Homo sapiens: one gene and its partner. The protein of the gene in region 1 purifies or fractionates together with the protein of each later gene. This does not show direct contact. Each region holds a gene or a part of one and is shown in the gene's direction. Other genes may lie near its edges.

The links. Proteins that work in one complex are often made in the same cells at the same time.
Region 2: the proteins of MTSS1 (region 1) and RAB5A purify together in Homo sapiens (affinity purification with western blotting, with the first as the bait; 2 studies listed by BioGRID). This does not show direct contact.

The regions. Positions count from the first base shown.
Region 1 is NC_000008.11:124,563,183-124,568,900, reverse strand, and holds part of MTSS1 (protein MTSS 1), read left to right. Parts: exon of another isoform or gene 1-18; intron 19-364; coding exon 365-522; intron 523-1,722; coding exon 1,723-1,830; intron 1,831-3,141; coding exon 3,142-3,239; intron 3,240-5,718. UniProt on the Homo sapiens protein: May be related to cancer progression or tumor metastasis in a variety of organ sites, most likely through an interaction with the actin cytoskeleton.
Region 2 is NC_000003.12:19,980,489-19,985,096, forward strand, and holds part of RAB5A (ras-related protein Rab-5A), read left to right. Parts: intron 1-3,219; coding exon 3,220-3,335; 3' UTR 3,336-4,608. UniProt on the Homo sapiens protein: The small GTPases Rab are key regulators of intracellular membrane trafficking, from the formation of transport vesicles to their fusion with membranes.

The DNA.
Region 1 (5,718 bases):
TCTTAGCCTCTTCAGAATGTTCTGCAAGGAAAGAATGCTGTCTGGCTCTGTGTTCCAGGGTTGTGTTGGCAGAAGAGTTGGTGGGGGTTGTGCAGTGTGAGAAGGCAAGTCATGAAGAGTTGCCCCAGGACATTTTCCTTGTCAGGAATAAGCCAGGCTAAATGTGCCCTTTGGGCATTGAAAATTGGAAATGGCTGGTCCTAGAAAAACAGCTGCCTTAAATCCTTTTGGGGCATGAATAAATACTTTTTTTACATCCTGGAAAATTGTGGTTTTGACTCCAGCAAGGACCCCAGGGAGGAGGGGCACTTGTTCCAGAAGCTGGTATTTCAGCAAGCCGTGCTTGGGTCTCTGTTTTTTGCAGGGAGAGGTGATATCCAGCCTCAGTTGGACAGTGCTCTCCAAGATGTCAATGATAAGTATCTCTTATTGGAAGAAACAGAAAAGCAGGCTGTCCGGAAGGCTTTGATTGAAGAACGTGGCCGATTCTGTACCTTCATCTCTATGCTGCGGCCAGTGATTGTAAGTTAATGGAAAACTCCAGAAGGTTTAAACTGCTGGTGTAGAGGTGGCTTCCTTCTAATTTTATCCATCCACTGTTGAGTCATGGAGAATCTACTGTCAGGAATCATGATGGTGGTATCTCCTGTACAGACCAGCGATTCAGTGCAAGTTGATGGCCATGTAGCTCACTCCTCATTCACTGTTCTAGTACCACTTGTTCCCCGTTACTTTGTCTCACCAAGTCAAGAAGGCCCAGCAGGGTGGTTCTCAAAGTGAGGTCCCCAGGTCAGCAGCATCACGTGGGAACTGGCTAGAAATGCAAGTTCTTGGGCCCAACCCAGACCCACCAAGTCCAAACCTCTGGGGGTGGGGACCCAGTCGTCTGTGTTTTAAAGGAGCACTCCAGGTGGTTTTGAGACTCACTGTTGTAGCCGAGTACTAAGGGGTGACCATGAGATGAATATCCAAGAGCCTCAATGAATCAATTTAGACTTAATTTTTAAGGAAATCATTTGCATGCCGTAATTGAGAACTTGCACTGCAGGCGTTCTGGAAGCTGATTCGAAGGTACCAGCTCATTTCCCTTAGCCCTAGCAAAATGTCTGAATTTGAGTTGTTCCCCTGAGCACAGAACTTTTCCATGGATCGTTCTAGCCCGGCCCGTGGTCCCAACTTGGCACTTCGATAAAGCACATGGGATGTTTCTTCCATGGTCCCCAGCTCCTGTCTTACTTGTCTTTTACTAAGTTGCTGGAAAAGCACAAGAAAGAAGGGGAAAAGTTAGCTTCTGTTGAACACACAGGCACTGTCACAAAGATCTGGACCAAAATATATCCAAGTCGTGTCATCCATTGAAGCTAAGCAACTTCAGAAAAGGGCCACAGTATGAAGAGGGCTGTGCTGCAGGATCCCGTGGGAACACACAGTCAGACCATCTGAGCAGGCCTGGCAGTCCCCCAGGCCCTGGGAGGGAGGCCTGTGTGTTCCCCACTGTCCCCTGTGCACAGGTCACTCCTCCATTATGGCAGATTTCTTTTTCCATCTCATTTCCCAAAAGAAAAGGCATGTAGTGCCTTCAGCAAAGATTTGCCAGTCCCAACAGTGCCTTTTCTGAAAAACTGAAAGGGTTATACAGAGACCCTAATGAAAACAATTGGACTAGAGCGATGAAGGGAATCACTCATGATAATAACATTTCATGAATGACTTTTCCTTCAGGAAGAAGAAATCTCAATGCTAGGGGAAATAACCCACCTTCAGACCATCTCGGAAGATCTAAAAAGCCTGACCATGGACCCTCACAAACTGCCCTCCTCAAGTGAACAGGTAGGCTTCAGGGGTTAAGCACTTACAGGATCAAACCAAAGAGGTAAAAGCTCAAGGCCCTGAGTGTTCCTGTGGCATGTGTCACGTCTTAAATTGTAGTCATATTCACCACGTCCTTCATGATGTAATATATGAAATCACCACAGCGAGCTGTTACATAGAACCTATTGTGTGTCAGGCACTGTCCCAAGCTCTTTACATAGCCTGACTTCCTCCATTCATCTTCATGATTATGCTTGTTTTATAGAGAATGATGCAGAGGCACTGAGAGATGGAGTCACTTAGCCAGGTTCAGCTAGCTAGCAGGTAGTGGAACTGATATTTGAACCAAGTTGGTCAGGTTCCAGATCCCATGCACTTAATTGCTGTGTTCATCTGCCCTCTAGAAGTCAACCCTCCTAAGAACACGTCGCTGGTGTGTTTTGATTGACACTGTCAACCATTCTCCATTTCTCCCATTCTAATTGAGCAATGCATGGAGAGCTCTCTCATCTTATGAAAAAGATGACATTTTTATGCTTTATTCATTTAATTCACATCACACGCACACTATGGGAAGAGACATATTTGGGGGAACTGATGAATCACATGCTGGCTTTTGTGCTTGGTAACAATCTTTTCGTCTCCTTGGAGAGCTGGCTCAGAGGGCAAATTTGGGAGCTCATGTTTTCTATTCTATCAAATTATATTTATTAGACCAGAGCATGCATGCATTCACTTGACAAATAAACATTTACTGAGTGCTTCTTATGTGAATGAAAGGTGGACCTTATACTCATGTGGTCCTTTGTCAAGCAACGGAGACAGATATAGAAATAATGGTGAAAGAATTGGCTTGTTCTTGATTCTGTCAGGCTTTAAAATTTCTAGTGCTGGTCAAATAGGGCAGAAATGACCACTGAATATCAAGTGGTTAAAATGCGCTACCAACAAGTCTGGGAACCATGATTAACTTTATGGCATTACAAGAGGAAAATCCTGTAAATTCTAGCCTTGGGTATAAATGGCTGTTATAAATTATTAATTGGTCACTGTATTTCTCCCTCTCTCGACTGATATTTCATGATTTTCCTTTTCCCTTCCTTTCCTTCTCCCTATTAATTATAGTTTTACTTTCTCAGTAAAAGGATTATGATATTGATGGATTTGGTACTGTGGCTCTTCAATTTAAAAAAAATTTTTTTAACATGTTTTGCTTTCATTCCCACCCCCACGATGGCAGCGTTTTGATGCTTTGGTGGATGTTAAGCTTTGATGGCTAACGCTTCCCCTCTCAGCACCTCATTCACCCAGCTGGCTCTGTCCCCTTAGGTGATTCTGGACTTGAAAGGTTCTGATTACAGCTGGTCGTATCAGACGCCACCCTCTTCCCCCAGCACCACCATGTCCAGAAAGTCCAGTGTCTGCAGGTGAGTGAAGCCGGGGTCCACTCTTGCTTTCAGGACGGGTCATTTTTCTTTATGCTAATGTGAGCAATGGAGCCAGTCCTTATCTCTTAGAATGGCTCATTCTCAAACAGGAAATGGGATGATGAGCTGAAAGAATGGTAATAATTTTGGTCTTGCTCTTTAGTCTCTGGATTAATTTTGGATCAGAAAGAAAACCCCATTAGCCCTTGACTTGTGGATGTAGCTTATTCTCTCTCACTTGTATGTTGTAGGGATTTTCCTATTCTATGAGATCACATTTGATTTTCCTGTTTAGCAGAGTGAAAACCTTCTAAGGCCTAAAAAATGGTGAACCTGGGTTGATTTTTACACAGGCTGATCTCACTGTTGCCAGAACAAACGAAGGAAGTAACAATGGCTTATGCCCTCATTTCACCCCATATTTTTGTTTCAGGGTTTCATAAAGTAAATAGAGTTCTTGCTCTGTCAGTCACTGCTACTACTACCACCACTACCACGACCACACCTGTATTAATTAGTACTGTTCCCTATTGGAACAAAATCTGTTGGAATAGTTCTGCCATCTGCAAAACTGTTGTCTAGCAATTTTCTGTTAGAAGTCAGTTCTTGGCTTGCCGAGTAGGAAAGTTTCTTTTCCTCTCCTTGAAAGATGGAAGCATGATGTACCATCTATCTCTCTTGGTATAGTAGTCCTGTTACTCTTTTAATTTAACTTTCAAAGCCAAATGAGTTTCCACTTCCTGTGTATTAGCACTGAGAGTAGAGGGCAGGATGTATCTGCTCAATCTGTCTGTGGTGATGTTTTGGTGCACGCTGATGCCTATTTCCTTTCACTGCGGAGCTTGTACACTACACACTTAGCAGGAAGTTCAGACCTAAGACGCTGCATCCTGGACATTCTGCCCCCTGAAGATATTGGTTTGTTTCTTATCTTCTGTCGACTGTGTGTGTGTGTGTGTGTGTGTGTGTGAGTGAAAGAGAGACCTTTTTATTGTTGCCAAGAAAAATCTCTCATTAGTGTAAAACAAAGTTGCGTGGCTGTTTTTTTCTTCCTTATAATTTTAGTTTGAGTAGAAAACCATGTTGCACTGACATCTGCAACTCTGAGGCTGCCGGGGTGGAGTTGCTGTGAGCTTTACTGTCGGTCCCCAACTGCCGCCTTCTGGCTGACTGGAGGGGAAAGTCAAAAATCATGATATTTATTCCTCACTGCAGCGATTTCCTCCAGCACGCTCCCCTATGTCTGTCTGAACATTTGCACCAAGTAATTCTAGTGTAGAACAGTCACGCGGCCCTTGAGTACCTTATTAGCTGCCAGATTTTGCAAGCCAGAGTCTCTTGCAGGCTTAGGAGCAGAAACCATGACTTTTCCTATCCCAGCCCTAGTTATTTACTTCATCCCTGCTGCTGCCTCTACAACTGCTCTTTTTATTTCAGCTCCGTTTGTTTGGACCATGGGAGTCTGTTTTCTGCTTTTTATGATCTAAGTTACTATACAGAGTGTGGAGCATTTTTTTTTTTTTTTTTTTTTTGAGATCGGGTCTCGTTCTGTTGTCCAGGTGGAGTGCAGTGGCATAATCTCAGCTCGCTGCAACTTCTGCCTCCTGGGTTCAAGTGATTCTCCTGCCTTGGCCTCCCAAGTAGCTGCGATTATAGGTGCCTGCCACCATGCCTGGCTAAGTTTTGTATTTTTATCAGAGGCGGGGTTTCACCGTATTGGCCAGGCTAGTCTTGAACTCCTGACTTCAGGTGATCCACCCGCTTTGGCCTTCTGAAGTGTTGGGATTACAGGCGTAAGCCACCGCACCTGGCCAGGAGCATGTTTCTTTTGAGTGGAGATGGAAGGCAGACAGAAATCCAGAGCGGGTGTGTCATTATTTGACATCCTGTTTACTGTGCCATTTCAAGAGCAAACAGCTGAGCATTGATTGCCCTTAGTCGCTGAAAGCTGCCTGCCTCTTGCCAAGTGTGCTATTGTGCCAGACCCACAGATATTTTAACACAGAAACAGCTGGGGTCAGAGTAAAAACATTAATTAAAGCATCACTTTGTTAAAAGGTAAAACATATGCACACCAACATAGTGAGTTGATTTGCTGATGTTCTTGACAGCGGGCTTGACCAGACTCAGCTAGGATGAAATCACCTCAGCAAATCCATCGGCAGTGCTTAGCTGGGTTGGCCTTGGTCATGTGGACCCAGATGGTCCATCCAAGAACATTCCAGTCATGCTGAAGCCCCAGTGGACTTTTGCTGCAGGCTCATGGTTCCTGCAGGCAGATTAACCCTGTCCCTTTTCTTGCTACTGACATCAGCTCCCCTCGTTTTGGTGGTAGGCGAAGCAGCAGAGTTGGGCGCACTTGACGTTTTAGAACCCCAGACCTCCCTCGTAAGAATGCCACATGGTTACCATCGGAGACCTGAGTCCTGGCAGCTGTATTTCCCCCTGGGTCACCTGGAAAAGCATTTTGTTGACTACC
Region 2 (4,608 bases), on another chromosome or scaffold:
GATTAGTAACTTAAATCACACAGTGCACTCATAACAACTCTAATCAATGCAAGGACTAAAAAGTTACTCGTTCTAGTTTACCTCCTTCATCCTCTTAATCTCACTCACCTCTGATTTAAACACTTAGGGAACATGCTAAAGGGATACATGATTGATTACTCAATCTGGAACCTAAGTTGTTATTATATACAATATATAGTGCTATTTTGTGTCCCAGGTACCAGTGTTCAACATTTCTGGGGCTTTGCTTGTAAATACATTTGACTGGAGATTTACCATTATAATGCTATTTATGCTACCAGCCCAGAGCCAGTCCCAGAGAAGTGGCCCAATTGAAGGCTTTCTTTCCAAACTTCAGTGCTCCTGGCTCCCAAATCCATTGCCCAACCCAGCATCTAGGATTCTAAAAATGATTGATGCTGATGTAGAATGGAATGTGTAGAACAAATAAAGGATAAAAGGTTCACAATGCAACTAGGCAATCCGATCTCAAAGCAGAGTGTATTCAATTTCTGAGTAACCTGAGTCAAAGCTATGGTAAAGTTAGAGTCTTACCATAGTGGTCTGTCCCCAAGATTGATAGAGATCAGTGTGTGCAGCCACTCTTAAAATCAGTACTCTTAGTCATCTTTAATATTCTGCCTCCCCTCAAAAAATGAATTTAGCACATCAAGGATCTTATGTATTAAAACAAACTACAGCAATCTCCAACTTTACAGTGGTTTGACTTACGATTTTATAACTCGATGGGGTGAAAGTGATATGCATTTAGTACATTCTTAACTTACTACGGGATTACATACAGAAACCCATCATAAATTAAAAATATCATAAATCAGGCTGGGCGCAGTGGCTCACTACCTGTAATCCCAGCACTTTGGGAGGCCAAGGCGGGCTATCACCTGAGGTCAGGAGTTGGTCAGGAAACAAGCCGGGCCAACATGTCGAAACCCCGTCTCTACTAAAAATAGAAAAATTAGCTGGGTGTGGTGGTATGTGCCTGTAGTCCCAGCTACTTGGGAGGCTGAGGCAGGGGAATTGCTTGAACCCAGGAGGCAGAGGTTGTAGCGAGCTGAGATCGTGCCACTGCACTCCAGCCTGGGTGACAGAGCGAGACTCCGCCTCAAAAAAAAAAAAATCATAAATCAAAAACATACAACTTAGGATGGATATATCAGGATGTAGCCCCATTGTAAGTCAAGGAGCATCTGTATATCCAGCAGGTAAGTTTTTTTAATCAGTGGGAAGCACACTCCAGAGAACAGCCACTAGCTGTATAGAGCTTGGCAGAGGTAAAGCCGTAACTGCTGGTTGAGAGTGTTGTCTGAATTTGACAAGCCACACTCATCGGACTCAAATAAAATTAAGAAATAGTTTTTGGAGATGAGGTCTTCAGGATAATTCTATCTGGATTAGGTACAGCTACTGGTCAGTCAGATTAGGATTCATCAGCCCATAAAAGGAGAAAATGAGGTTGGTTGAGGTGGCTCACTCCTATAATCCCAATACTTTGAGAGGCCACGGTGGGATGATCTTCAAGGCCAGGAGTTCTAGACCAGCCTGGGCAACAGAGCAAGACCCTATCTCTACCAAAAAAAAAAAGCCAGGCATGGTGGTGCACACCCTGTAGTCTCAGCTACTTGGAAAGCTGAGGTGGGAGGATCTTTTGAGCCCAGGAGTTCAAGGCTGCAGTGAGCTATGATTGATGCACCACACTCTAACTTGGGCTACAGAGGGAGACCTTGTCTCCAAAATGAAAAGAAGTATGGCTGCAGGCTACATTCAAACTAAGATCACAACGAAGTGTTGAGTATGTATAAATGTATGTGGATATGTTTGTGTCTAAGTGTATTTCCACTAGCATGCTAAGGTATGTTTGTGTGTGAGTATGTTTCCTCCAGTATGCTAAGTTTTGACACATGCAGGCATCTAACTTGGGTGTTATCTGTCCTTCCTTTGCCCAAAGCATAGATTATAATTGTTCATTCTCAAAAATGCAACTCTTATCTATTTCCCCTTTATTTGAAGGCAGCTGATGGTTACTCTGCAAGGTGTAAGTTTCTCTTTTAAAAACTAAGCGGTCGAGCATGGTGGCTCATGCTTGCAGTCCCAGCACGTGGGAGTCTGAGGCGGAAGAGTTGCTTGAGCCCAAGAGTTCAAGACCAGCCTAGGCAACAAAGTGAGACCCCATCTCACTTTGGAACTCAGGACTGCAGTAAGCCATGATCATACCACTGCACTTAATCCTGGGTGACAGAGTGAGACCTTGTCTCTTAAAAAAAAAAAAAAAGAGAGCATGTATATAGATGTTTTAAGGCCAAAGGCTGTGGAAGCCAGGAAGGAAATAGTAGATATGATCTATCACAATTCGGGGTGATAATTAGTTGCACAGTAGAGGACAAGTTTTGTTGGGGTGATGATTGCAAAGGTATTTGTATCCTGACTTGTTCTAAAAAATGTTTGTGGCAGTCTAGAGAACGCTGATATGAGCTGAGCTTCTTTATAAACTTACTGGCTGGCCATCATCTTTATTGACTTAGATTTTATTTAATAGAAGTAATAATGAGGCCAGGTGCCATGGCTCACGCCTATAATCCCAACACTTTGGGAGGCTGAAGCAGGTGGATCACCTGAGGTCAGGAGTTCAAGATCAGCCTGGGCAACATGGTGAAACCCCGTCTCTACTAAAAAACAAAAATTAGCTGGGTGTGGTGGGGCATGCCTGTAATTCCAGCTACTCGAGAGGCCAAGGCACGAGAATCACTTGAACCCAGGAGGTGGAGGTTGCAGTGAACTGAGATCACGCCATTGCACTCCAGCCTAGGTGAGCCTGGGTGACAGAGTGAGACTACATCTCAAAAAAAAAAAAAAAAAAGAAGTAATAATGAGTATAAAATAAAATAGAACTTTTCTGGTATTATTGAGTGAATCGGTATAGAGAATTACATAAAGCACTAGTTAGGCTTAAGTTTTAATTGTATCTACAACCAGTCCCCATCTACCGTTCCCCCAACACAATTACCCCAGAAATCAAACTCCCTAAGACAGCAACCAATATTTTGGCATTCAATACTCAGTAAACATTTGAAAAGAATGAACATATGGTTATATGATACTTTGGGGGTAACCTAACTGGAAAGAAAAATTATAGATAAGCAGGTGAAACTGATATTAATATGAGTATTCAAATATTCTATTTATTTGATCATTTTCTTTCAGCTAAAAAATTGCCAAAGAATGAACCACAAAATCCAGGAGCAAATTCTGCCAGAGGAAGAGGAGTAGACCTTACCGAACCCACACAACCAACCAGGAATCAGTGTTGTAGTAACTAAACCTCTAGTTTGAACTAGCTGGAATAGTCTTCTGCTTCCTAAATGTTAATAACAATGGAATTGGAGCATTTAACCAGCCCAGTATGACTTCCAAAAGAAGAGACTTATGATAGAGTCAAGTTTCTAATACAGAATTATTTTAAGTGTTTTGAACTTAATTTTTAATAACATGCATGGGTCCCTCTCACTAATGTTTCAACAATAGGGAAAAATGAGAACTATGTGGACACTTGTTTCATTGGAAGGTTAGGGGGAATAATTTCTCATCACTAGGAATATAGACAAATGACTGTCTGGGCCCACACAGTTAACCAGCCCATTTCTCCACACTGGTACAGTAGTCACCTGTGAAAAAAAAATTGGAACTTACTAATTTGGGCTTTTCAAAAACATTCTTTGTTTAGAAGGAGATTCTAAAGTTATTTATGATGCTTAGCCATAGTATTCAGGCAAATGTTCATTTCTCCTGGTACCTGTATTTAAAATGTACATTCCACATTTTAATAAATTAACCACAAGAAAATAATCCCACATATACAAGGTCAGGGGTGGGGAAGAGTATTAATGGTATCTTAATTATACCCAGTCTGGTTTTTTTTTTTTAAATGGGGTAAAAATCAAATGCAACCCCATCTTGTTTTAGGAATTTTGAGAACTAATAAATGCACCTTAATGGTCAGTGTTCCTTTCAAACATGTGAGTTCTTTAACAAAAATGAAATAAACCAGGTGTCTGTGATTTCTAATTAATCACCGCTGGCCATTACACAGGTTTTGTTGTTTGGGGTGGGGAGGGGGCTTTTGTTCCCTTTTGACATAATATAGTCAATGCACTAACAATTATGTATATTCAAACTTGATTATTTTAAATTCGATCTTCAGCTGTACTGTAAATAGGGTACTGCATTGTAGTCTCCATATCTGTATTACTTTTCTGTAATATTTAAGAGTTGCTTAAAAGCATACAAAATGTACTGTTACTAAAACAGCTAATTATTTCTCTCTCCCCCTTTGACAGGAAGGGGCTTCAGTTGTTCCTCCATGGCTAGAACCATAATAAACAATGTACCCGTAATTTGTAACATAAAGTATTGCAATATGTTAGTAACAATCTTGCAGCCTTCCTTTCCAAAGTTCATTTTATTTTGATCAGTTCAGTATATTGCACTAATTATTTTAGGTATTTTCATTATATGAAAGCTACCATGTGTCAGAGATGATTTAATCTATTTAAGTGTTGGACTGCTAGGAGAACTTGTACATTTATGATAATG